6 linked regions of the Homo sapiens genome follow. The protein of the gene in region 1 interacts with the protein of each later gene in a biochemical or structural test. Each region holds a gene or a part of one and is shown on either strand. Other genes may lie near its edges.

Region 1 (3,500 bases):
GAGGAAGGCACTGACTCCTTTCTCCTGTGGCCCTTCAGGGGCCTGCCCATTGGCTCATAGTGGAACCCGGTCACAGCCCATGTGGCAAGACCCCCCATGATGCCTTGCACAAGGTCAGCCTCCTGGGCCCAGAGCAGGTGAGGGAAGGGCAGTGGATATGTCGGGAGGGTGGAGTGGGCAGGTGGTGAATAACTGGCACTCGGGTTATCTTTTCTTGAGGTTAGGATTGCTCTCCAGTTTTATAGGTGAGGAAGCTGAGCTCAAGTGGTTTTCCTGTGGCCCACCTGGGTGTCATAGCAGAGTGAGCCCTGGAACCCAGGCCTGCCTCGTCCTGACTTCTGTGATCTCGGGCGATCACATAGATCGCAGTGTTCGCTCTTGCATCATGTGTGTTTGACAACTTTTCTGGGTGCCCCTGGCCCTAGGGTAAGACATGCATAGAGTCCAAGTCATCATTTAGGTCAAATCTCTAAAGTCAACTTACAAAAAGGAACAAAGAATAACCCTGCAGGTGCCATTGGCCAGGTTGTTTCTTCACCGCCCAATGATGCCTGACTTTGGCTGGGACCGTCATGCTTTCCTAGCCACGGTTGATGGTGCAGAGGAGGAAGGAACACTCCCCCAGGAGAGTTTGCTGGGCTTGACAGCATGCCCTGATGACCTCTCCCTCCCTCTGCCTTGGCCGTTCTGGTTATTTTGAACTCCTCTTGTGTTCTCACAGATGCTATTCAGGTTTTTGACGTCACCGCTGTGAACATCAGTGCCACAAGCCTGACCCTGATCTGGAAAGTCAGCGATAACGAGTCGTCATCTAACTATACCTACAAGATACATGTGGCGGGGGAGACAGATTCTTCCAATCTCAACGTCAGTGAGCCTCGCGCTGTCATCCCCGGACTCCGCTCCAGCACCTTCTACAACATCACAGTGTGTCCTGTCCTAGGTGACATCGAGGGCACGCCGGGCTTCCTCCAAGTGCACACCCGTGAGTTCATGCCTGGCTCTCACCACCCTTTCCTGCTGTCCTGCTCCGTGCCAGGCCCAGACACAGGATGCATGATGTAGTAATGGTGACTGTTGGCTGACCACACGCCAAGCTTCGTGTGACATGCTTTCCTTGCACTGGCACATTGTATGCTCACAACAGCCCTGTGATGTGGTTGGAAGTAGCCTTATTTTATAGATAGGAAGCCAAGGCTGAGAGAGGTGCTAGACAGGTATCACAGCTGGAAAGTGGCAGAGGTGAGATTAAGCCTCTGGTATTTCTCACCTGGAGCCTGCGCTTGTAACTCTCTTTCCAGTGTGGAGGAGACCTAGAGTGAATTGATACAGGGAGACAAAAATGACCTGGTATTCATATCCCCTTGTGTCTTGGGTGCTGACATTATAACGAATCACTGGCACAGCTGTATCTCATCTTTGTTTGTTTAAATGTCCCTTAAAAATAAGATTTTATGCAGCAAATAAAAAGCTTTAGGTTTCAAAGAAGGTCCGATAATGTAAAATAAAACAGTAATGGTGCACTAGTAGTACAGTGGTATAATATTGATTATATACTATTAAACAATAGTAGTGACACCAGCACTGCATTTTGCACTGTGCCATGAGATTTATAGACACTGTAGTGGCCTCCGAGGTAGGTATTGGGGTCCCCTTTTACAGATGAGGAAATGACACCCTGATGGCTGAACAGTTTGCCCAAAGCCACAGAGCTAGTGAGTAGCAGAGCAGGACTTGAACTCAGGGGTGTGTGGCTCTGGACCCAGGCTTATCCCACAAGAATGTCCATTCCTTCGCAGGAAGCACACCTTAGCATTCTTATAGATGTATTTTGGACTGGATCTTTGGGAAAATGAAATATGCTTGCATTTCTTTACCTTTTACTCTTTTACTATTTATTAGTTAGGATTAGGTTCAGCCACGAATAACACCACCAAAAACAACAACAACAAAACCCAAGTATCCGTGGCTTAAACAAGACAGGGGTTTATTTCTCTCTCCTGTAACAGAAGCCCAGTGCTAGGCAGGATGGGGATGATAGAGGTTATCCAAGGCTCAGTTGTATGAAACAGAAACTGTGAGCTATTTTAACCAAAAGGGATTTATCCTGGGAATTGAGGTTTTGCAGAATCATTGGAAGAGCTGGTGTATTAGTTTGCTAGGGCTACCAGAACAAGTACCAAAGGCTGTGTGGCTTGAACAGAAATAGACTTTCTCATAGTTCTGGAGGCTGAAGGTCAAAGATTAAGGCAACGGCAGGTGTGGTTTCTTCTGAGGCCTCCCTCTTGGCTTATAGATGACTGTCTTCTCCCTCACATGGTTGTCCTTAGTCTGCGTGTGCCTATGCCCTCATCTCCCTTTATAAGGACACCAGTCTTGCTGGATTAGGGCCTACCTTCATGACCTCACATTAACTTAATTACCTCTTTGAAGACCCTGTCTCCAAAGACAGCCACATTCTGAGGTCTTGGGGGTTAGGACATAAACATACACATTTGGGGGTGAGGGAGCACAAGTCAGCTCATAACAGTTGAGGAGCAGGCTTTAGGCCTCGCCCCAAGAAATGACTCCTGGACTAAGTCTGCAGAACTGACCCCCTGGAGAGTCACCACCTTGGTCACAGACAGCAGAGGGAGGAATCAGGAAGTCTCTGCTGTAGTTGCGGGATCCAGGGGTCTATGTTCTGAGCTGTGATCCTGGGATCAGGAAGCTGCAGCCACCGCTGAGGTTTTGGTTCTAGAGCCAGGCAGCGTGAGCTCCAGTCATTGCATCCACACTACAGGTATAAGAAGGAGGAAGGGCAGAAGGTTGTGCCCCACCCTTAAAGGACACTTCCTAGAAGTCACCCAGTACCTCTGCTCATGCTTCGTTGAGCAAAACTTAGTCACATTGCAACATCTAGCTCCATGGGAGCTGGGAAATGTGGTCTTTGTTTCCAACAGGTATGCACACACAGGGCTAAAAATCTGGGTGGGTATGATGAAGGGAAAATGGGGGAATGGATTTTGGGGGTCAAGACTGGTCTCTCTCTGCTGTCCCTCCCTGAACAGAGGCTCTGGGAGGCTAGTAATGCATTCGAGATAAAGCAGCCAGTGTGGCCAAGGTTCTCCTCCAGAGCCTGAGCCCTTGACCACAGGAGCTCACGCCTCCTCTCATTTCCTGTGAATGATTGTGTGCAATGTAAGCACAGAGCTTCTGCACTCTCATGATCAAGTGCTCTCTCCATGGCCAGAAACAGCAGTTTCTGAGGGGCTCATGTTGTAGGTGATGATACAAAGAAGACAGAGAGAGGGATCAGGTGTCCTAAGTGTACATTTCATCTCAGTATTTTCTGAGGTGGGGCATCCCTGTCTCCTGGAGAAGTATATTTTTAATCTAGTTGTTTACTTTCTTTGCATAGCCCCTGTTCCAGTTTCTGACTTCCGAGTGACAGTGGTCAGCACGACGGAGATCGGCTTAGCATGGAGCAGCCATGATGCAGAATCATTTCAGATGCATAT
Region 2 (3,500 bases), on another chromosome or scaffold:
TGTGGTTCTGCTCCTGCTTCTTTCCACTCATTCTCTTACTCTGTGTGCTCAGGTTATATGGTAAACGAGCCTTTCAATTCCTTGAACCTGTAGTTTCTCTTACCACAAGGTCTTTGCGAGTGGTGTTTCCTTTCTTTGTAACGTTCTTCCCCCCAACCATTTACCTCCTACTCAGACATCACTTAGCTACTCAAGGGAGGCCTACTCTGACCCCACATTATAAGTCAGGATCCTTTGTTATATACTCTTGAAGAACTGTATTCCTCTCCTTAGAGATTTATCTTTTTGTTACTTTGAGTGTGTGTTATTATTTGCTTCTACCACTTCACCTCAGTGAAAAGCAGAGAACATACAAGTTATTTAGTCATTATCAACTGCGCTTTGTGTACCTTGTGGGACTTAGGTACTCAATACATTTTTGTTGAAAATGAATCAGTCTCTGAACACTCTGGTGATAGATGGTATATTACCCTAAAGCTTGCCTGTAATGTCATACAGCTATGTTAGGTCTTTGTTATCTGGAGTTCCATGTAACTTTTATACGTAGTTACTATTTCTGCTGTTTCAAGCCATACGGAACTAAACACAATTCTTTTTCCATGTAATAGCTACTCAAGCTACTCATTTACTTGAATACAGGTTACATATCTCCTCAGATTTTCGATTTTGCAAGTTAAACATCCCCCAATTCCTAGCATATTTCATATTCCAAACCCTTCATCATTTAGGCTACCTTCCTCTGGAAGTAACCTAATGTTACTGTTTTGTCAACCTTTCTTCTAAAATGTGCCCAGAGTGGAACACAGTGATCAGAGAAGAATGTACTTAAGCTATTATTGTCTTGAGATGGACACTACCATTATTCATACCAGATAAAATTGTATTAGCGTTTTTTCTATAGTAAATCACATTCTTGGCTCATACTGAGCTTGTAGTCAGTGAAAACTCATGTTCTTTTAAAATCAGCTCCCTAGCTCCATTCTAGGTTTAGAGCAGTTTTATTGAACCTAAATCAAGACCTTATCCTTTTACAATTCATTTTTTTAGGTCAGTGCATGTCTGCTGTTTGTTGAGGTAATCTGGATTCTTAGTTCTTTCATGTTAGGAAACATAATAGCTGTCTCTTCCAGTTTGGTTAGATCTGTAGGTTTAATCATGACTTCTGTTTCTACGTTTGAGTTATTGGTAAAGGATAGAATAAGACAGGGTCAGAAATAACCCTTGGACATGCTGCCAGTGACATGCCTCTAGACTGATACCCATTAATACACTTGGGCACTGTTGCTTAAATACAGATGTGTCTCATTTAATTCCAACAAAACAACCTGCAAAGTAGGTAGTATTATCTTTGTTTTTTTGCAGAGAGAAAGAGAGAGAGATTTAGTAACTTGAGAAGTTCACATAGCCAGCAAGAAGCAGGGTCAAGATTTGAACTCAGATCAGCCTGGTACTGTTACCTAGTTCACCAGCTTAGTTGCAAGAGTGTAGTAAAGACTAGGTTTACCTCACCTAGAACTTTTTGGACATAATAATGTTCAGAAACTATCTTCTACCTTTTGGAAAATCTGAAAAACTTTGGCCCATCTGATTGTCTATCATTTCTTCTGATAGCCTTTATTTTCTAGTAACTACTGAGTGATTTTTAGCAAAAATAGTTCACCTTGTTGCAATACTTTTATTTGTGCATATTTATGGAGTACATGAAAATTTTTTTACATGTGTATAATGTGTAGTGATCAAGTCAGGGTACATGAGTCCAATGTATTAAGTATAGTCATCTACTCAGCTATCAAACATTGAATTTATTCCTCCTATCACTGGATCTTTTTTTTTTTTTTTTGAGACGGAGTCTTGCTCCGTCACCCAGGCTGGAGTGCAGTGGTGTTATCTTGGCCTCACTGCAACCTCTGCCTCCCGGGTTCAAGCGATTCTCCCGCCTCAGCCTCCTGAGTAGCTAGGATTACAGGCATGTGCCACCACGCCCAGCTAATTTTTGTATTTTTAGTAGAGACAGGGTTTTACCACATTGGTCAGGATGGTCTTGGACTCCTGACCTGGTGATCCACCCGCCTTGGCCTCCCAAAGTGCTGAGATTACAAGTATGAGCCACCGCGACTGACCTCATTGGATCTTTTTACCTTTTAACCCACTTCTCTTCAGCCTTTCTCTCCCTTACTCCGCCTTCCCAGTCTCTGTTATCTATTTTTCCACTCCCTGCCTCCTTGTGTTCAAATTTTGTAGCTCCTACATATATGTGAAAGCATGCAATATTTGTCTTTTTGTGCCTGGCTTATTTCACTTAAGAGAATAACCTCCAGTTCCATCCACATTGCTGCAAATGATATGATTTCATTCTTTTTATGGCTGAATAGTATTCCATTGTGTACATGTATGACATCTTCTTTATCCATTCATCTGTAGATGGACACTTAGGTGGTTGATTCCATATTTTTGCTATTGTGATAGTACTGCAATAAACATGCAAGTGCAGCTATCCCTTTGATACATTGATTTCTTTTCCTTTGTGTAGATACCCAGTAGTGGGATTGCTGGATGGAAGGTAATTCTATTTTTAGCTTTGAGAAATCTCCATACAGTGTTCCTTAGTGGTTGTACTAGTTTACATTCCCACCGACAGTGTATGTGAGAGTTCCCTTTTCTCTGCATCCTTACTAACATCTGTTACTTTTTGTCTTTTTAATAATAGCCATTCTGACTGGGGTAAGATGATATCTCATTGTGGTTTTGATGTGCATTTCTCTGATAGTGGTGTGGAACATTTTTCCATGTCTTCTTTTGGCCATTGTATGTCTTCTTTTTTAATGGGATTATTTGTTATTTTCCTTTTGAGTTGTTCGAGTTCCTTGTATGTTCTGGATATCAGTCCTCTGCTTGATGAATACTTTGCAAATATTTTCTCCCATTCAACAGGTTGTCTCTTCATTCTGTTGATTATTCTTTTGCTGTGCAGAAGCTTTTTAGTTTGCTTAAGTCCCATTTGTTTAGTTTTCTTTATGTTACCTGGGCTTTTGATGTCTTAATCATAAATTCTTTGCTTACACCAATGTCCAGGAGTGTTTTCCCTAGACTTTCTTGTAGTATTTTTATAGTTTTGGGTCTTAAAATCTTCAATCCATTTTGAGTTGATTTTTGTATATGGTGAGAGATAGGGGTCTAGTTTCACACTTCTGCATGAAGTTATGCAATTTTCCCAGCATCATTTATTGAAGACAGTGTCCTTTCCTTAGTGTGAGTTCTTGTCAGTGTTGTTGAAGATCATTTGTCTATAATTATGTGGTTTTATTTCTGGATTCTCTATTCTGTTCCATTGGTCTACATGTCTATTTTTATACCAATACCATGCTGTTTTGGTTACTATAGCTTTATAATATATTTTGAAGTCAGATAATGTGATGTCTGCAGCTTTGTTCTTTTTGCCCAGGTTTGGTTTGGTTGTTTGGGCTTTTTTCTTTTTCCTTTTTTGGTCCCATATGAATCAC
Region 3 (3,500 bases), on another chromosome or scaffold:
AGTAGAGAGCAGGGCTTCAGCACCCTGGGGGGCATTTGAAACAGCCCCATCACCAACTGAAAGCACAAAAATGCTAAAAATGTGGCACCAAATAACCACAAAAAGGACTCAGGTTTTTTTGTTGTTGTTTTTTGTTTTGAGTCTCACCCTGTCACCCAGGCTGGAGTGCAGAGGCACAATCTCGGCTCACTGCAACCTCCACCTCCTGGGTCCAAGTGATTCTCCTGCCTCAGCCTCCGGAGTAGCTCGGACTACAGGCGCCCGCCACCACACCTGGCTAATTTTTTGTATTTTTAGTAGAGACAGGGTTTCACCATGTTAGCCAGGATGGTCTCGATCTCCTGACCTCGTGATCCACTCGCCTCGGACTCCCAAAGCGCTGGGCATGAGCCACTGCGCCTGCTCAAAAAGGACTAGTTTTAATCCTCAGTGTGCAGATTGTATGAATCTGACGCATAAGGGCTGAAGCAAGAAGGTGGAATGCCCTCTTACTTGACCTCACATTTGAGACTCGTACTTATGAGTGTCCTAAAATGACCAGAAAGGCACTGAGCATGCTGGTTTGAGGGTTACAAATACATTTGAGTGAGTAGGTGAATTCAAAAATACAGGGTCTGGGGCCAGGTGCAGTGGCTCATGCCTGTAATCCCAGTACTTTAGGAAGTCAAGATGGGAGGATCACTTGAGGCCAGGAGTTCGAGACCAGCCTGGGCAACATAGCGAGCCCTTATCCCTGCTGAAAAGTTAAAAATTAGGCCGGGCACAGTGGCTCGCGCCTGTAATCCCAGCACTTTGGGAGGCTGAAGTGGGCGGATCACTTGAAGCCAGGAGTTTGAGACCAGCCTGACCAACATGGTAAAACCCCATCTCTACTAAAAATAAAAAAAACTAGCCGGGCATGGTGGCGTGCCTGTAACCCCAGCTACTAGAAAGGCTGAGGCAGGAGAGTTGCTTGAGCCCAGGAAGCAGAGGTTGCAGTGAACCCAGATCACACCACTGCAGTCTGGCCTGGGCAACAGAGTTAGTGAGACTCCGTCTCAAAAATAAATAAATAAATAAATAACAATAAAAACTAGCTGAGCATGGTGGTGTGTGCCTGTAGTCCCAGCTACTCAGGAGGCTGAGGCAGGAGGATCGTTGATGCTCAAGAGTTGGAGGCTGCAGGGAATTAGGACCACACCACTGCACTCCAGCCTGGGTATCAGAGCAAGAACCTGCCTCTCAAAATAAAAATTTAAATTTTAAATTTTAAAAAGAAAATATGGGATCTGGGAATGATGAGGATCAACCAGACTCAAATTTAAAATTTCAACTTTAGGAATATTAATCCAATTATAAGATAAAATCTTTTAAAGTCTAGAGAAAACTATAGGGATGGAGAACAGATCTGTGGTTAGGGGTGGAGGTGGTTTAGTGATAAAGGGGTGAATTGAGGGAGTTTGGACAACAACGAGACTGTTCTCTATCCTAATTGTGGCAATAGCCATACAACTCTACACATGGCTTAAAAATCATAAAATGGTACACCTTTAAAAAGCCAATTTTACTGTATGATAATGTTTAAAATATTTTGTTGTTGTTGTTGTTACACAGTCTCACTATGTCACCCAGGCTGGATGCAGTGGTGCAATCACAGCTCACTGGCGCCTCGACTTCCCAGGCTCAGGTGATCCTCCCACCTCAGCCTCCCTAGTAGCTGGGACCACAGGTGCTCACCACTGTATCTGGATAATTTTTTTGTAGGGTTTTGTAGAGACGGGGTCTTGCTATGTTACCCAGGCTGGTCTTGAACTCCTGGGCTCAAGAGATCCACCTGCTTCGGCCTCCCAAAGTGCTGGGATTACAGGAGTGGCCCCATGACACCTAGCCTAAAAAATTACTAAACATCAAAAAGATACATAAACCAATGGCACAGTTACCTCCCTGGACATGAATGGAATGCTTTTGGGGACAGGGGGACAAGATTTTTTTTTATTATTTCTTTTCTTTTTGAGACAGGGTCGGGCTCTATCACCCAGGTTGGAGTGCAGTGGCATGAATATGGCTTACTGTAGCCTCAACCTTCTGGGCTCAAGCGATCCTCCCACCTCAGCCTCCTGAGTAGCTGGGACTACCGGTACACACCACCATGCTCAGCTAATTTTTAAACTTTTTCTAGAGATAATGTCTCATTATGTTGCCCAGGCTGGTCTCAAACTGCTGGCTTCAAGTGTTCCTCCCACCTCAGCTTCCTAAAAAGTCCAGGGATTACAGGTGTGAGCCACTGCACCCCACCACAAGATTTTGCAGAAGGACTTCTGTGTTTTTTTTTTCCTTTCTACACTTTTGTAATTTTTCTTTTTGCAATGAGAATGCATTACCCGTCACTATTTAATTAAAAACTGTAAATACCATGCAGCTGCAAAATATCAACCAGGCCACCCCAAGAAGTATTCTTTTTTTGTTTGAGACAGAGAGAGGATCTCACTGTTGCCCAGGCTGGAGTGCAGTGGTACAATCACAGCTCACTGCAGCCTTGCCCTTCCAGCCTCAAGAGGTCCTCCCATCTCAGCCTCCCAAGTAGCTGGGACTACAGACACATGCCACCATGCCCAGCTAATTTTTGTTTTATTGTTAGTGGAGACAGGGTCTTGCTGTGTTGTCCAGGCTGATCTGAAACTCCTGGACACATGTAATCCTCCCACCTCAGCCTCCCAGAGTGCTGGGATTGCAGGCATGAGCCACTGCACCTGGCCAAAAATATTCTTTTTTTTTTTTTTTTTTGAGATGGAGTTTCGCTCTGTCACCCAGGCTAGAGTGCAGTGGCGCAATCTCGGCTCACTGCAACCTCCACCTCCCAGGTTCAAGCGATTCTCCTGCCTCAGCCTCCCAACTAGCTGGGATTACAGGCATGCGCCACCACGCCTGGCTAATTTTGTATTTTTTCAGTAAAGATGGGGTTTCACCATGTTGGTCAGGCTGGTCTCGAACTCCTGACCTCAAGTGATCCACCCACCTCGGCCTCCCAAAGTGCTTGGGATTACAGGCGTGAGCCACCACACCTGGCCCAGAAGTATTCTTAACAGAAATTAACACAAGAGAGGCCTGAGAGAAAAAAAAAAAATCTCATTATATACACCAGTTATATTTTGGGTTCTAGATACAGGGTTGAGAGCATGAAATCCTCATTCAATGCCAATATAGCTGTTTAAATAAATACACATGGCTAAGTAGGCAACATCACGGTGATTTTTCTCATCCTTGGAATCCGTATATTCAGTGCAGCAAATGACACACGTTTCTTTAACATCTCTTGCGGTGTAAAGAGAAAGACATAGCGTTTCATTTCACTCACTTCATTCGAGTTGTACCAGGGACTGCACAAGCTATTAGGCATGCTATCATGAATGAAACCTCAAGGCGTCTGTTCCAGATCAGAGGTCAGCAAACGCTGTTCTGTAAAGGGCCAAAGTGTAAATATTTTGGCCATGGAATTCCTGTTTTAACTACTCAACCTGCCG
Region 4 (3,500 bases), on another chromosome or scaffold:
GATCACACAAAAAATCTAATGAGAAAAGCCCTATCTTTTGATTGCTTAGCGATAAACATGTTTATAAAAAATGTATTCTTAGTCTCCACCTTGTTTATTCTGTCATTAACAATTTTTATTTAGAACGCATGCTGATTCTGCAAAATCCACCTCTTCTGAAACAGACTGCAATGATAACGTCCCTTCTCATAAAAATCCTGCTTCCTCCCAGAGCAAACATGGAATGAATGGCTTTTTTCAGCAGCAAATGATATACGACTCTCCACCTTCACGTGCCCCATCTGCTTCAGTTGACTCCAGCCTTTATAACCTGCCCAGGAGTTATTCCCATGATGTTTTACCAAAGGTGTCTCCATCAAGTACTGAAGCAGATGGAGAACTCTATGTTTTTAATACCCCATCTGGGACATCGAGTGTAGAGACTCAAATGAGGCATGTATCTATTAGTTATGACATTCCTCCAACACCTGGTAATACTTATCAGATTCCACGAACATTTCCAGAAGGAACCTTGGGACAGACATCAAAGCTAGACACTATTCCAGATATTCCTCCACCTCGGCCACCGAAACCACATCCAGCTCATGACCGATCTCCTGTGGAAACGTGTAGTATCCCACGCACCGCCTCAGACACTGACAGTAGTTACTGTATCCCTACAGCAGGGATGTCGCCTTCACGTAGTAATACCATTTCCACTGTGGATTTAAACAAATTGCGAAAAGGTCAGCTCTAGTTGACTTCTTCTCTATTAGAGGTTAATGATAGAAAATCGATTTTTCTGAATATTTGTTCTTTTAAGCGTAGTTAAATATACTATGCTACAAAATACAGTCCATTTTTTTCCAGCTCTACAGCTACCTGGAAGGGTATATTGCATTCATGCTCTGCTGGAAGGGAAAAAGAGTTGGAGTTTCTCACCCCTGAAGAAGTATGGCCTTAGTAATGCCTTCCTGCCTCAGGAAGTGTGCCCTTCTCTCTCCCACTTTCTATAATCCTGGGTGGATAGGCCCTCTGTTGGGACAGAAGGGCAGGAAATGGACCAGCCACAAAGCCTCTCCGAGTCATACCCTTTCCTGTATTTGTGTGCCATTATGGCCGCTTCTAAGTCACATCTGTTGGGCTCTATTTCCTTCCTTCCTATATAAGCAGTTTTTATGTTGTGTCTAACAGGTGATATTCTGTTCCAGTCAAGCCATTATGCTGTTTGATTTTTACTTGTGTTTAAAGAGCTGAATCTTCTTTCCCCTTATCACTACCCACTTCACTCATTGCTAGTGAGTATACTTTCCTATACTGTCTCCTAGAGTCTGTATCCAAAAGTTACAGACCTTGAGAGGAGAAGAAAAAAATGAGTCTGGGTGATTCTCTGAGATTCTCAAAGTCCTACAAATAGAAAGCTAAAGTTTTTAATGCACATATCCTAAACAGTATGTGCTAAAATTTCTGTATTTTGTGGTAGAGTTTTCCTCAGCTATCTCCAAGATTTTAATGTATCTGTGATTATTACTTAAATCAGTACTTATTTCACCATTCAATAACAGTATCTAACTCCTTTCTTGAAGTGACTGTATAACCTGGTTATCAGTTAGTGAGATGTAAGTTATGCCCAAGGTGGTGCAAACGATGAGAAAATAGAGGTGTTTCTCTTCATCTTTAGATAACCTATCTTATCCCAGACTTAGACATTCACTCACACTCAAAATTAGATATTGGTATTGGTTAGCATATGAGTGAGTGTCTGCATTTTCTAGTGGTTTAATATGCCAATTCAAGACACAGTTCTATGAGCATCCTTTTTAAAATTCTGTGTGTGTGCATGTGTGTATGCATATGTATAATGAGAGAAAGATAATAGGTCATCCCAATGACCCTGAGAGCTGGCAAAGATGGGAATAAATGTTGATAGTTTGTTCTTTATTTTAGATGCTAGTTCTCAAGACTGCTATGATATTCCACGAGCATTTCCAAGTGATAGATCTAGTTCACTTGAAGGCTTCCATAACCACTTTGTAAGTATAATTGACCTTGGCATCATCAAGTGTATTTCATTGTCTAAATCTTCATAATTAGTGCCATGAGACTAAGTGATATCATGAAATAAAAGTACGCTGAGATCCATATGAATGAGTGTGACTTACAATTGTGTTTTCATGTGTGACAAGAGTTTTTGTTTATTAAAAGAAATATATATGTGTTTTAGAAAGTCAAAAATGTGTTGACAGTGGGAAGTGTTTCAAGTGAAGAACTGGATGAAAATTACGTCCCAATGAATCCCAATTCACCACCACGACAACATTCCAGCAGTTTTACAGAACCAATTCAGGAAGCAAATTATGTGCCAATGACTCCAGGAACATTTGATTTTTCCTCATTTGGAATGCAAGTTCCTCCTCCTGCTCATATGGGCTTCAGGTCCAGCCCAAAAACCCCTCCCAGAAGGCCAGTTCCTGTTGCAGACTGTGAACCACCCCCCGTGGATAGGAACCTCAAGCCAGACAGAAAAGGTAAGGAGAGCATGGCAAAGTAAAAGGCTTGGGGAGTGCCAAGTTAGATCTATCTTTAACTGCCATTAAATCCAAAATAGAATTTGGACTAGAAATTCTGAAATATTTCATAGTTCCATAGCCATCAAGTTATTTAAGCAAAGCAGTACTGCCATTTATAAATTAACAATTATGATATCACATGTTGATGTGAGGTGATATTTATAAGTCTCCTATCTCTAGAGCAGAGGTTACAAGCTGAAATACTCACGGGGTGAGCGGACAACTGGGGAGAATTAGAAGAAACTGGACTGCCGTAGCCCCATCTAATGGGAGTAACTAACCTACACTGCTACAATCCTTTGTTGACTTGTGAAATGATGCACCCATGCAGGCAAATCTTCTGGTATATCAGGAAAAGCCAGAGATTTCAGATTTTATATGTATTATCTCTCAATTTTTAAAGTTCTATCAACTAATTTAATTATTAAGAAAACATTGCAGGCCAACCCAAACACTTCTGCAAGCTAGATAATGGCCTTCAGCTGCTATTTAGTAACCTCTTCTCCAGAGTATATAATATCAAATCAGACTTAAGATTATTAATGTATTTGACATAATTATTTAAGAACAGTGAGACTGTATAATCTTTCCATTCTGTTCATATAACAACTTCTTAAAAATTACTTTGCCTTTGCTGGGGTAATACATGCTTCTAGTCTGTCATTTTTTTTTCCATGCTGGCCTTCATAAGTAACATTAAGTTCTAAGGTAACATAGTTTGTTAAGAAGTCTGTAAAAGAAACTGTTCAGCCAAATTGGGTAATGCCTACCCAGGTTTTTTAAATTGGGGTTTAAGTTGTTAAAACACAGACAATTTGATTTGTTGCACCATGCTGTTAGTGTGGCTTAATCTTGACAACCAAGTAAATTAGCATAAATGTAAATGTGATGAATGATACAATATCTGGCTTACATTAGGGTGTTTCAGCACATTTGAAAAGTCTCATGTGC
Region 5 (3,500 bases), on another chromosome or scaffold:
ACCCAAACACGTAAACCACCTCATGTTAAAGGAAGGTGTAAATCTTTAGAGAATGCATTCCTGCCACCATCATCTGAGTTTTTCATTCTCTCTCCCTCTTCCTCCCTCCCTCCCTCTCCACTCCCTTTCCCTCTTCCCCTTTCTTCCTTCTCCCTTCTCTCACTTCCTTCTTTCTTCTCTCCCTTTTTCCTTTCTTTCTTTTTTGACTCCAAAGTCAAAACTATTTCCTTATTACTGTCAACCTAAAGCCTCAGATTATGCTTTGAAGACTTGACTTCTTTTTTATGTTTATTTCATATAGCAGAGAATTTGCTAAAGTGAATAAAATATTTAGTGGCTTCATGAACTGATGAAATGGGCTATTTGCTGTCCGTGTTTTGTTTTTATTTCCTGTTCATTTCCTCCTCCCATCCTACTTATACACTTTCCAGTTTCTCCTCTCCCCAGTCCCCTACACCTATGCTGCTTCTAAACAACCTTTTTGGAACCTGTTAACTTTTTTTTTGAGACGGAGTTTTGCTCTTGTCACCAGGCTGGAGTACAATGGTGCGATCTCGGCTATCTGCAACCTCCACCTCCTGGGTTCAAGTGATTCTCCTGCCTCAGCCTCCCAAGTAGCTGGGATTACAGGTGCCCACCACCATGCCTGGCTAATTTTTATATTTTTAGTAGAGACGGGTTTTCATCATGTTGGCCAGGCTGGTCTCGAACTCCTGACCTCAGGTGATCCATCCGCCTCGGCCTCCCAAAGTGCTGGGATTACAGATGCAAACCACGGCACCCAGCCTATCTTTAAAATATTCCCTGAAAAAAAATAATAAAGCCAAGTTCAGCGGCCTACAGAAGAGTATCAGGACACGTAGGGAAGCACCTTAATGTCATGGGAAAATATCCTGAAGTTTTAATATGCCGTACCAGAAGGGGGAACAAAGAATTACAACAGAGAAGCATTTCTCAAACTGTTTGGAGTGAGAGATTAATGAATTTGCTCAGGGGAAAAAAGGTGCTCTGGTCAAATAGGTTTGTTAAACCTTGAATACTCTATGTCTCTCCTCCTGGAGAATACCAATATACATTAGCATATAAAAGGTTCTGCGAAGTCCTGCAATAAAGAAACCTGTTACACATCTACACATCACCTTAGCACCTCTCACACTCACTTGACCATGGCACCCTTCTCCCCACTCCATTCCAAACACTTATTTGTACCTTTCAGTTTCAGAAAACAAAGTTCAAATTATCTTTACATCAAAAACTTACTATCTTTCCTTTACAGACTCAAAATCAGATCCTGAACTCCTGTCAAAAAGGAAAAAAGAAAAGCTCCCAACCAAGCCAACAGTGTCAACTTCAAAAGCCTTCAGAGTTGGAACGTGCCTGCACATCTCTGATACATCAACTACAACATCAAACTAGAAGCTTTGCACAAAATCTAAGGAGAAGGGTCTTACACATCTGTGTACCAGGTGGGCAATTCCATGAGAGGGGAACATGGTAGTATAACTTAGCTTGACAACTGTCCCTGTGGGCATTCTTATTTCACAACATTTAGCTATCGAGGGTATCACTACTTTAATCTTGCATTTGTCCACCACAAAGCTCATTTACACGGCCTCTTAAACAAACATGGCCAGAGCACATGGTCCTACGTTTCACTTCAGCTTCACCACGCCAGATGACTTTTGTACGCAGGCCCAGCCATGATATGAGTGAAGCAGCAGGAGGCAGAGGAACGGTGGTTTGGCTGATTTGGAAGACAATGTATCATAATAAATCTTGGGCAGAGAGGAAAATTGAATGGACTCACCATACACAACCAGAGAGACCACATGGCTCTGCTTCTCCTTTGAAATGGGATTGGTAAGGATGACAGTGTAATTTCCTGTGTCTCTTTCACTCACTTCCATAATCGTCAGTACATGCCCCGCTTTAATTGTGTGATTGGACTCAAGGGGTATTCCATTTTTATACCTATGAAAAAAAATTCTCAGGAATTAGTATAGTCAAAGGATTTGCTCTCACACGAAATGATGCTTTGCATTTATTTCCAGTAGTTACCATTTTATTTCTGGGGGTGGGTAACCAAGGTACTTCGCAGGGATTCTGACACGCTCCCCCACCGTGGCTTCCACCAGAGATTCCATGCCACTTCCAAAAGCAACAAAAGGTTTTTCTGGAAGAAAATAAAAAAAAAAAAAGGTCAACTTACTGTAAATGGTCATTTGATTTAGTTTTTCATTTCAAGTGAAACGTCAAAGACCTTGAGGGTCTGAGTAGCTGCAGTTCCAAGATTTCCTGTACTATCTTTCAGTGGGTCACTTTTCAGCTTCTCCCACACCTCCCGTGTTTCTCCCACACCTCCTGTGTTTGCATTTGCTTTTCTCTCCCCGCTAGTGCACTCCCACAAGCCTAGTGATTGCTCAAGTCTCAACTCAAACACTTGCTCCTCTGTGCAGCTTTCTCTAAGTCCCCCAGGGATGCTTGGGTGCTCCTTCTCCTCTGCTCCCATGACAGCCTCCACACACCTCTTCCACCATGAGGCCCCAGGACTCAGTCCTCAGACCTCCTCTTTATTTACACCTTCCTCTAGCCTCAGGTTTAAAGTATCATTCACGTACCTCCTAAATGTGTTATCTTCTGCCCTGACTCCTCTGGGTTCCGGGTTGATATGTTAAATATCTCCACTTGGATGTTTAACAGGCATCTCCAGATAAACATATCTAACACTGTTTCCCTAAATCTCACTGCCTTCTCGATCTTTGCCATCTCAGTAAATAACACCATCATTTACTCAGTTGCTCATGCTAACGCTCGAGTCATCTTCCACTCTTTTTCTCTTATACTCCACAACCAATGAATTGATCAGCGGACCCTGTTGACTCTACCTTCAAAATATATCCAGAAGCAGATCACCTCTCACTACCTCCACCTCAACTACCCTTGTCTAAGCCACCCCTCAACTCTCACTTGGATAACTGCAATTAGCCTCCCAACTGACCTCCTTATTTCTGCCCCTATTTCCCTGAAGTATTCTGGAAAACAAAAGTAATTCTATAAAAACATAAGCCAGAGCACATCTCTCTCTGTGTATTTTGACAAGTGCATCTTGGCAAGTGAAATAATTTAAATAAATTTAGGACACTTAGTGATTTCTATTTTGTTCATTCAGAAGAAATTTTCAAGTTCTTGCTAGGGATGCCACGTGACCTAGAGGTCAAGAGCATAGCTTTGTAGTCAGGAACTTGAGTTCCAATCTCAGCTTCAAAGATGAGATGAGCTAATAAAGTAAGTGCTCACTAAATCATACTTGTTATAGTTGTTGCCACTTTTATGATTACAACTCTAATAAATAGCATTATCTAAGGTATTTTTAAAATTTCACTGTATTGATGCATTCTCATAATATAAACTCCAAAATCCTTTCCAAGGCTTATAAGTAGGATGCCACACAAATTACCATGTAAACTCAGACATTTATGTAAATGAAAGAGAATAAACAA
Region 6 (3,500 bases), 9.7 Mb from region 1:
CAATTCTCCTGCCTCAGCCTCCCGAGTAGCTGGTATTACAGGCACACACCACCACACCTGGCTAATTTTTTGTATTTTTAGTAGAGACGGGGTTTCACTATGTTGCCCAGACTGGTCTCAAACTCCTGACCTCGTGATCCGCCCACCTCAGCCTCCCACAGGGCTGGGATTACAAGCGTGACCCACCGCGCCCAGCCATGAACAATTAAATTCTATACCACTCCAAAAGAAACAAATCTTTATATCCCTAGGTCACTTTACCTAGGAATGCCTTAAAGCCTACCATCTATCTTTCTTTCCATCCTATAGGAAGTCCCCAAGCAGGAAAATTGCCCTGACAGTAACTATGCTTATAAGGGAAGCTACTATAGACCCTGATATACCTTCTGTCTTCCCTATCCCATAAGATTTTCCCATCTCTTCATCCTTTCTATCTGGCCAGAGATCACTTCATGCAATCAGATCAATAATGGCATATCAGTCCTCCATCTTAATTAAGTGCTTAACCCCTCCCCTAATAGAGAAGAAAAGACCTCTTATCACTTCCAGATCTTACACACGTCTTAGTTTACCGTGGTCTCTGTGCGCCGAGTGGTCCCATCATCTGAGGTCTCCACAGAGACTACAGACATGGCTCCCTCAGGATCCTCCTCCGTGTAGGTCTCCACAATCTGCCCCGGCTCCTGCATCCTGGGGATGGTGCTATATAGAAGGTGACTGTGATCCTATATGCAAAAGAGAAAAGAGAAGAAACTACTATTAAGTGCTATGTATAACAAGCCATCCTAATAAGAAGCATAAGTGGTAAACCTGGAGACAGGGACTCCTCATGCATCTTCTATAGGCCTCAGGATTTTTAGATGGGTGGCTGTCATCTTTTGAACTTGTACAAAAGGACAGTAGACATAATTTCCCAGTTGTAGTCATTTAACAAACATGAACTAACTATAGCCACATCAACATCCAAGTGACAGACAGTAGATTTAACTTCCCAGCTGTGGTCATCTAAGTGAACATGAACTGTGTTAAATGCAGTTTCATCTATATCTGAGTGATCCCTCAAAAGAGCAGCTCACCCAATAAATAAATAACTTGTATTTATTTACTTGAGATAGGGTCTCACTCTATCACCCAAGCTAGAGTGCAGTGGCATGATCATAGCTCACTGGAGCCCCAACCTCCCAGGCTCAAGCAATCTTGCCATTTCAGCCTCCTGAGTAGCTAGAACTACAGGCTCACGCCACCATGCCTGGCTAATTTTATTTTTTTTGTAGAGACAGGGTCTATGTTGCCCAGGCTGGTCTTGAACTCCTGGGCTCAAGCAATCCTCCAGCCTCAGCCTCCCAAAGTGCTGGAATTACAGGAATGAGCAAACCACGCCTGGCCAAAATAAAGAACTTTGTTTTTTTTTTTTTTTTGAGACGGAGTTTTGCTCTGCCTTGGCCTCCCAAAGTGTTGGATTACAGGCATGAGACACCGTGCCCAGTCTAAAATAAAGAACTTTTTTTTTTTTTTTGAGACAGAGTTTTGCTCTTGTTGCCCAGGCTGGAGTACAATGGCATGATCTCAGCTCACCACAATCTCCGCCACCTGGTTTCAAGCAATTCTCCTGCCTCAGCCTCCCGAGTAGCTGGGATTACAGGCATGTGCCACCACGCCTGACTAATTTTGTATTTTCAGTAGAGACGGGGTTTCTCCATGTTGGTCAGGCTGGTCTCCAACTCCCGACCTGAGGTGATCTGCCCACCTCAGCCTCCCAAAGTGCTGGGATTACAGGCATGAGCCACCATGCCTGGCCAAAAATAAAGAACTTTTAAGACAAACCTGAAAATCCCAGTAAGAGCCATCTTTTGACTGGCTTTATGTTACTCTTCAGATACCGTCTAAAAGGCTCAAGACCAGCCAGATTTTAGGTAGGGTTTTTTGCTGCAAAGTAGAAGCCTACTGTCTCTAGAAAAGAAACGCAGTACTTAGGGATCAAATGGGGTGGCAGTGGGGAGGAGGAATAGTCATAAAGATCAATGGTCATTAAAATTCATTCCAAAACAAAACTGCATATATACTTTGGAGCTCCACTTCTTTGTTTTCGTAAATAAAAGAAACTAATTGACGAGTATGTACAATGTGCCAGGCACCTTACAAGACACAAATATGCTCTTATAGGCTGGGGAAATAAGAAAATATGAATGAAGCAACCCAGGTCTTGAGCCAAAGAATTACCTGGGGTCCGTTGAGTTTCAAATCTGAAAATTTCTGTCTTTCAAGGTCAGCATCGCCCACAAACCGGCCGTTCTGAAACACAGCCCACAAGAAGACAATTCATTTTGTGGCCTTCTTTTGCTCTATCAAATACAAACGATCTTTTTTTCAAACAGGAAAAGGGCTTTCAAGAAGATATGTGTGGCCTGGAGTCCTTGTGTCAGTACTCATAAAAGAACCATTCACTCTTTAGTCTTAGCACTTTCCTCAAAATTGAAAATCAGGCCTGGAACTCTGGCAGACAGGGTCTCTGGAACATAAGAACGTAAACTCCACGAGGGCAGAGGGTTTTTTGGGATAAGTTTAGTTTAGTCTAGTGCCTTGAACAGTGCCTGGCACATAACAGGTGCTCAAAAACTATTTGCTGAATAAACAGCACAGACCTAGATAATTTCCCTTACATGCAACCTTTTTGGAAAGCCATAAAAATGTAAGGAAAGTTGGAAGGGCTAAGTTGGGGGGTTTCCAAAGAGCTTTATAGTCTCATGAATCTTCATGCAGTACTACCACTGGAAACTCCCATTCCAGGCAGCTTTTTAAAGAAAGAAGCAAGATGGCTATCATGTCCTAATGTAAAAAACAGAAATTTAATTAAAGAAAAAAGCAAGAGATACGAGTCTCCCTTTCCAAGTACAAAAACAAGCACCCCAACTCCCCTCAAGAAAACAGAAGGCTCAATATCTTTACCAACAATTATTAGAGCCACAGAATACATTCCAAAATGTCATCCAGAAGTTGCTCTGTCTTAAGCAGCAGGAAATAATCTAATGACATTATACCACATAAAAATATATTTGCCTGCTCCTCTTCCAGTAGAATAGTGAGATCCAACCACCTTGGGAGACTCTTCCTCCACCCCACTCCCATTACATAGAGTGTAATGCTGCAGGGAGAGGAAGTTAAACATTACTTTCAGGAAGAAGGAAGGGTGTGGTTTTACTGCTAAGCAGAAGTTAAAAATAAGAGAGCAACCACATACTGAATCCTGGAATTCCCCATGACCTCCAAACCTGAGCAGTCCAGCTTTCTCCTTTCAATATAATTTCATCCCTAACTTTCTATTGTAGTTCCTGTAAAAATCCTAGGAACACTGCAAGCATGCTGCCTCCCTCAAATTCCTTGATCCTCCAACTGGAATTCTGTTCTCTCTCAACTGCAAGGCTCCTCAGTATGAGGGACTTTCTCTATCTTAAAAAAAAAAAAAAAAAAATCACTCAGCCGGGTGCAGTAGCTCACGCGTA

Evidence for each region.
Region 2: of the proteins of PTPRJ (region 1) and NSF, one has a biochemical effect on the other in vitro, tested with the Homo sapiens proteins (one large-scale study listed by IntAct).
Region 3: of the proteins of PTPRJ (region 1) and INSR, one has a biochemical effect on the other in vitro, tested with the Homo sapiens proteins (one large-scale study listed by IntAct).
Region 4: of the proteins of PTPRJ (region 1) and GAB1, one has a biochemical effect on the other in vitro, tested with the Homo sapiens proteins (one large-scale study listed by IntAct).
Region 5: of the proteins of PTPRJ (region 1) and KDR, one has a biochemical effect on the other in vitro, tested with the Homo sapiens proteins (one study listed by IntAct).
Region 6: of the proteins of PTPRJ (region 1) and CTNND1, one has a biochemical effect on the other in vitro, tested with the Homo sapiens proteins (one study listed by BioGRID).

The regions. Positions count from the first base shown.
Region 1 is NC_000011.10:48,127,059-48,130,558, forward strand, and holds part of PTPRJ (receptor-type tyrosine-protein phosphatase eta isoform 1 precursor), read left to right. Parts: intron 1-721; coding exon 722-985; intron 986-3,400; coding exon 3,401-3,500. UniProt on the Homo sapiens protein: Tyrosine phosphatase which dephosphorylates or contributes to the dephosphorylation of CTNND1, FLT3, PDGFRB, MET, KDR, LYN, SRC, MAPK1, MAPK3, EGFR, TJP1, OCLN, PIK3R1 and PIK3R2. Plays a role in cell adhesion, migration, proliferation and differentiation.
Region 2 is NC_000017.11:46,593,669-46,597,168, forward strand, and holds part of NSF (vesicle-fusing ATPase), read left to right. Parts: intron 1-3,500.
Region 3 is NC_000019.10:7,284,415-7,287,914, forward strand, and holds part of INSR (insulin receptor isoform Long preproprotein), read right to left. Parts: intron 1-3,500. UniProt on the Homo sapiens protein: Receptor tyrosine kinase which mediates the pleiotropic actions of insulin.
Region 4 is NC_000004.12:143,437,876-143,441,375, forward strand, and holds part of GAB1 (GRB2-associated-binding protein 1), read left to right. Parts: intron 1-123; coding exon 124-725; intron 726-1,926; coding exon 1,927-2,012; intron 2,013-2,203; coding exon 2,204-2,507; intron 2,508-3,500. UniProt on the Homo sapiens protein: Adapter protein that plays a role in intracellular signaling cascades triggered by activated receptor-type kinases. Plays a role in FGFR1 signaling. Probably involved in signaling by the epidermal growth factor receptor (EGFR) and the insulin receptor (INSR).
Region 5 is NC_000004.12:55,108,596-55,112,095, forward strand, and holds part of KDR (vascular endothelial growth factor receptor 2 precursor), read right to left. Parts: intron 2,174-3,500; coding exon 2,059-2,173; intron 1,972-2,058; coding exon 1,808-1,971; intron 1-1,807. UniProt on the Homo sapiens protein: Tyrosine-protein kinase that acts as a cell-surface receptor for VEGFA, VEGFC and VEGFD. Plays an essential role in the regulation of angiogenesis, vascular development, vascular permeability, and embryonic hematopoiesis.
Region 6 is NC_000011.10:57,792,802-57,796,301, reverse strand, and holds part of CTNND1 (catenin delta-1), read right to left. Parts: intron 2,293-3,500; coding exon 2,221-2,292; intron 726-2,220; coding exon 573-725; intron 1-572. UniProt on the Homo sapiens protein: Key regulator of cell-cell adhesion that associates with and regulates the cell adhesion properties of both C-, E- and N-cadherins, being critical for their surface stability.